2 separate regions of the Homo sapiens genome follow, and region 2 is linked to region 1. Evidence: fine-mapped QTL for protein levels in blood plasma. A gene starts in region 1. The other region holds a variant in brackets. All regions are shown on one strand. Distances are between the middles of the regions.

Region 1 (2,911 bases):
ACAGTGTGCAAGTTATTTTGATACTATTCTTTGCTAAGTTTAGAATTGCATTGCAATTCAATTTTATTTTCTGTCCACTTTGTTTTAGTGTTAAGGAATAACCAAATAGAGCATTGAGGATTATAATATTGAGTGCCCAAGAATAGTAATCAAAAATCTGCCAATAAAGATGCTATAAAATTGGATGAGTTCGTAATGTCTTAAGCAAATATTAGGGATTTAGGTACGTATTAGGCAGATATTTGGGGATTCTAAACATGTGTTCCCATGATGGGAGTGTAACACTTGGATAGAAAGGAAGTTACCTAATTGTGATCATTTTGGGGAATATTGAGTGGGCAGGGATGAGGGTGGGAGTGGGTAGAGGTGGGGGTGACTGCAGTATAGTGTACAATTCACTGCAGCCTGCGTGGTCTCCCTCGCTCCTTCACGATTTTCCCTCTTCTTCAAAGTTTGTGTCAGGATGTCTTCCTGGCCATTCAAGTGGAAAGATACATTCCTAACAGCTTGGTTGTGAGGAAAGTAATATTTTTAAAGGTATGATTCAGTTTCAAGATGAAATTTTTGGAGCTCGGGAATGATTTTTAACCCCCACCCTCTCCCCGCCAAATTCAGCAAATGGAAGAAGCAAGGCCCATCCGAGAACTATTCCCAGGCACCAGCTCAAGGCGGAGGGCTCATGGGGAAGCTGAGTGACCTGCTAGGGCCCAAATCCGTTTTTGGCCTTTGCCCTAAAACAGTTCCCCGATGAGAGTTTGGAAGGGGCAGAAAGGAAAGTAACTATCTGGAGCAGGCGAAGAGTAGCAACGCCTCGGGTGCTAAAATCGGAAACCCCACCCCCTACCCCACAACCCTTTCCCAAAGGTAGTAGGCTGAAAGGGGGAATTCCTCGCGGGCGCCGACTCGCTCGCATCTCCTGAGAGGCAAGTTTCTTCGCAAGCGTTAGCCACCTGTGTGAGGCGCTCTGGGTGGGAAAGGTGGCGTGGGAGAAGCGACAGCTCGGCCACACCGCTCGGGAGCTTTCCTTAGTGAGGCCGGCCGTCAAAATACCTCCAGAACTCAGAGCTTTGATGATGCAGAGTCCCCTATGCCTCGTACGTCGCTAGGATCGTAGCTCAACATTCTCCAGGCTGGTCTGCTCTGGAGTCAGCTGAGGCCTCCCGAGTTTGCCCGGGGTCCTCCCTGTCCCCTCCCTCCCACCTCCCCACCCCCGAAGTAGCGCTCCCGCCTCGCTCCACCCGCACACCCCCGGCGCGCCTCGGAGGCTTATCAGGCTCCCCGCACGCCCCGCAAGCTTCCTTGGGCGCCCGGCGCGAGGGACTCTGAGAGCCCAGCCGCTGCCTCGGAGCCCCCATTCACGTCCCCTCCTCCCGCTCCCCCGCCACCGCGCCTCCGACTCTTCTCCCCCGCGCCGCGGCGCCCACCGCGTCTCAGGTTTAATCCCGGGTTGGACCTGCTGGTTTGCTCTCCCCGCTCTGAGCCTCACAGCCAGCCCAGAGAAGTGGAATCTGCACTGAAACTCTGGGTGGCTGGAGCCGGCGGACTGGGCATGCTCAGAAGCCAGGGCTGGCTTTGGTCTCAAGTAGGAAGCTTTGGCACTCGGGAGGCAGCGGCGACTTTGGGGAAAGTTGATCGGAGAGGGGAGGAAGCCTCAAGACGCGGAGCAGCGGCAGGAAGGAGCCCCCGGCAGCCCGGAGGAGCATGGGCACCTTGCGGGATTTACAGTACGCGCTCCAGGAGAAGATCGAGGAGCTGAGGCAGCGGGATGCTCTCATCGACGAGCTGGAGCTGGAGTTGGATCAGAAGGACGAACTGATCCAGAAGCTGCAGAACGAGCTGGACAAGTACCGCTCGGTGATCCGACCAGCCACCCAGCAGGCGCAGAAGCAGAGCGCGAGCACCTTGCAGGGCGAGCCGCGCACCAAGCGGCAGGCGATCTCCGCCGAGCCCACCGCCTTCGACATCCAGGATCTCAGCCATGTGACCCTGCCCTTCTACCCCAAGAGCCCACAGTAAGCAGGGGTGACGCGCCGGGTCCATGTGGCGCCCTGGCGATGGGGAGCTGCGGGTCTCTGTATTGTCTGTCGGCCCCCGCCCCTCCCGCTTGCCATGTCTGTCCTCATCCTCAGAAATGTTTCATTTTAACGGGCACTTCTTGCGGGGCTGTGCACGTTTCTCAGAGCCAGACTCACTGCACATACGTTGCCTTCGTGTCTTTGTCAGATGTCAAGGTATTATTTTTAAATATACATATACATTCGTATAAGCCACCTAGTGTACGTAGAGTTTGAACACGTCCCAGGTGTGTGTCCGACCGTGTGTGTGAGTGTGAGAGAAGAAATAAAAAGCCCCCGTCTCCCAAAAGCCCTGGCAAACCAGCCCAGCTGGAAAATCCTAAATGCAGGCTCATCAGACTTGAAATGAAATGCGTCTGATCACCCATACTTTCTATGCTTTTGTGGCTCTCCCGGATTTCTCTACCTGCTGGCGCTTCACGCTGGTACCCTTCAAACCTGACGTTCTTGTCATCATCAAAGTGTGAAACATAAGCAAATAGGCATAGAAAAAGGAAGAATTTTTGATTTCCTGAATTGGATGACATTTACAATCCATAAATGGAAGACTAGTCTGTTGATTTTGAAGAAATATTTTTTCATAACATATGAGGGAGAAGATTGCTTATTTTACTTAAGAAACGTGCATAATGTTACTAATGGAGCATCTCCATCTCCCAAGAGGTGGTTGCTTGTTTCCAGGGTCAGATACAGATAAGCACACTTATCTTATTTAAAACGTGGACCCATTGTTTGCCTTACTCTTGGCTTCTAATGCAACCACTCTGGCATTGTTCTAGCCTTTTAGGGAACTGTGCAATTCTGATGTTAGTGGGCTTCATAACTTGGATGGGAAA
Region 2 (2,911 bases), 840 kb after region 1:
TTTTAGCATCTATCTGAGATTCTGTATTTAATTCTCAACAAAGATCTTCCTAGTTCTAATTCTCAGTGATTTTTATTTCTCTCCCTATAGAGAGGTCCCTCTCCCATATTTTGTAAGTCAATTTAGCCATCATTACATAGAAAAAAACAAATGCTTGTTCATTGCTTTAAATTGGTGTCTAGTTATGTGAACATAACTTGAGATATAAATTCCTTAAAAGCAAAACTATATTCATATTTCCTTTAACTGGGTTCCTATATGCATTTGATTAAAACAACAGTAATACCTTCCACTTATTGATGCAAACTCTGTGCCAGGCTAAGGCCATTTGTCTAATCCCATCTGAGTAATAACAATAGTACTATTCTTATTATTCCTAGTCCCAATGTGCAGGTGGGAAGACTGAGCCTCAGATAACACAGCGAATTAAATGGGGAAGTATTTTACCCTATGCAATCCGACCCTGGAATCAGTACCTTTCAGTACTATACTGCATTGTAACTTGAAAGTTTGCGGAATTAATAAAAGAAAAACTTCTCCCACCCCTGACTCTTTCTTTTAAATAGGTTGTACTTCCTTCTGAAAATATCGACTTGACTTATTTTTTTTTTATTTTTTTTTTTGTGAGAGTAATTAGCTTTTTCTCAGTCAGCATTTTAAATTTGTTGTGACAGGGATCCATTTTATGCTTTCCACGAGACCCGAAACAAAGTGTTTCTAGACATTTTATTGCCAGAATATGCATGCTTTGCTCCATGCTGCTTGTAATTCATTAAAATGTATGTGCTCTGCAAATAGGAAACCAATCTGCAATAAATCAGCTTTCTAGAAAACATTCATGGAAAGTGTTCGAAATGGTTGCTCTGTAAGAATACACAAACCTGCTTGGTATTTGTGTGATTTGCTGTCATTTATGGGGTTTGTAAACAAATAGTGGATTTGTGTGAAACTGTAAATTAGTAGCCTGCCTTCAGCATGTGTGTGAGATCTGCTTACAAAATGCCATTTGATAGCATCTGAGCAGATCACGATGAGCTCCAAATTCCTTTTACAGGGACAAGTGATGCACACTGGTCTGAATTAGATAAATTGCCCTGACCCAAGATTTTCAACTATTTTTTTTTCTTAATCCGAGACATATTTGTAGCTGCCAGAAAACCTAGCTCACGGGCTTGTACACAGTTGGCATCTAAGGCATAAATCAATGAAGAATAGAAGCCCACTCGTGCTTACAAGTAACAGGCTAAAGATAAGAAAATCAGTTGGGCTTTCAGTTTTAGCCACAGAATACAAAGCTTGTTTGTGCTAGGGAGAGTTATCAAACAACGTGGTGCAGGAGATAATGTGGGTATTCAGTTCCAGGCCTCCCCAAGACCTTTGACTACAGAGTACTTCTCTGAATCCATAGCAAGGGCAACCTACTGCTTCCCTGCGGAAAAGGAATCATGCAGTTCCTTAGGCCAGGGGGTATAAGTCTGTTTCCTGGTAG[A/T]TAAGGCTCTGAACCAGGGCAGGCAGTATTTTAGTAATGAGCATTCCTCAAATCAGTCAATGTTAATGAGGAACAAACCGTGACCAACCAAGGCTTTAGGGAGATGGCAGTTGTTGTGAGAAAGGATGTTCTGTTTGCCTCATGTTCTACGTGTTCCCTTAATTATTATGAGATTCTGTAAGTGAGCTCCTCTTCACTCTCTGGGAAGAGCTACCATTCTTTTTTATTACTTACACCTAAAAATTATTATTTTAATAAACGTAACATGATTTGTCTTGTAAATAGACCTGCTGTGCAATACCATTCTGCAGATTTTTTTTTTTGCTTTGACTTTGTGCAAATCAGTTTACATTACAGATGTTAATAATTGCTAGGCATGAGAGTGTTGTCTCTCCCTGACTCCTCTTTCCTCTTCCAAAAATGTTCTTTAAGGTCAAATTGAACAGCCCCCCACCTTTTTTTTTTAAAGTGGCTTACCCTGACTAATTCTACTCTATCCTGTTTGTTGTTTTCTTAATCCTTTTGTACAGTTTGTACTACAAAGCTGCATGCTTGATCCTATATTGCCTGGAACTTGTCTGTCTCCCAGTTTTCTGTAAGTACCTAAGCACAGGGTATGTCTTAACATATATCCCAAGTTTCCAGCACAGCAAGGATTTGTGGAAGAATTATGCCTGGTACTTATTAAATAAACAATAAATATTTGTTGAATCAGAAGTCTGAGTAGGCTTACAATAAATGCATACATGCTACCCGAGTGACCCAATGAATGAAACAAAATTGTTCTGTTTTGCATTTGGATGCTTTATTACCACAACTAGATTAAAAATGCATCAAGGACAGGGAGCATGCCTTCTGAAATACAAGAACTCATCATGAGGGCATGTAGAGTAGAGGTTGCTGGTAGGAGATTGTCAAGGATACACAATCAAGGTGGAAAACAAAGAAGGTGTGGGAAGCTAAGGACAGAAAGATCATGGGAAAGGAATAAGACTCATTTTTCTTCTATCATCCTTCTCCTTTCCCTATCCATCCCAGGGAGATATAACAAAGGCCAAACCTTTAGAAGGATATTTTGAAGAAGAAAGAAACTTTTGTAGAAGTTGTTGATTTTCCAGTATAAGGCCCCGGGGAGAGAGCTGAACTGTTGTCAGTTACTGTTCACTCCACAAGGATGTGAAGGCCTCTGATAGCCATCTTGCCGATTTCCCAGTTACAGTTTAGTGCTTGCCTATGGGAATCTCCTAATTAACAATCTTACAGTGTTCATGTCTTCTCTCTTTCTGTTTAGTTTCGTGTCTACAGAATAGAGATAGTGATCCTACATATATGGATATATGTATGCATATATGTGTGTGTTTATATATCTATCTTTATATCGCCATATAATTATAATGCCTGGGTTTGAATATTGGCAGCACC

Alleles and levels. Alleles are on the strand shown, and positions count from the first base shown. The strength of an association depends on the size of the effect and on how common the allele is.
As copies of A replace T in region 2, the plasma level of the protein whose gene starts at base 1,598 in region 1 goes up (moderate association).

The links. A credible set is the group of variants that fine-mapping cannot tell apart. PIP is the chance, under the fine-mapping model, that this variant and not a neighbour inherited with it causes the effect. Protein levels are from antibody-based Olink assays in UK Biobank. Linkage for the fine-mapping came from a reference panel and not from the study's own genotypes, which makes the PIPs less certain.
Region 2: its variant is the best candidate, but not a certain one, in a credible set for the plasma level of the PRKG1 protein (UK Biobank, PIP 0.69).

The regions. Positions count from the first base shown.
Region 1 is chr10:51,072,890-51,075,800 of GRCh38, forward strand. It overlaps PRKG1 (protein kinase cGMP-dependent 1), which reads left to right and starts at 1,598. Exons shown (of 18, transcript NM_006258.4): 1 at 1,598-2,012. The coding sequence starts at 1,702.
Region 2 is chr10:51,917,733-51,920,643 of GRCh38, forward strand. All of the region lies in intron 5 of PRKG1 (protein kinase cGMP-dependent 1), which reads left to right. Among named protein-coding and RNA genes, the nearest start is that of CSTF2T, 220 kb to the left of the region's middle. The variant A/T (reference allele first, on the strand shown) is at 1,490.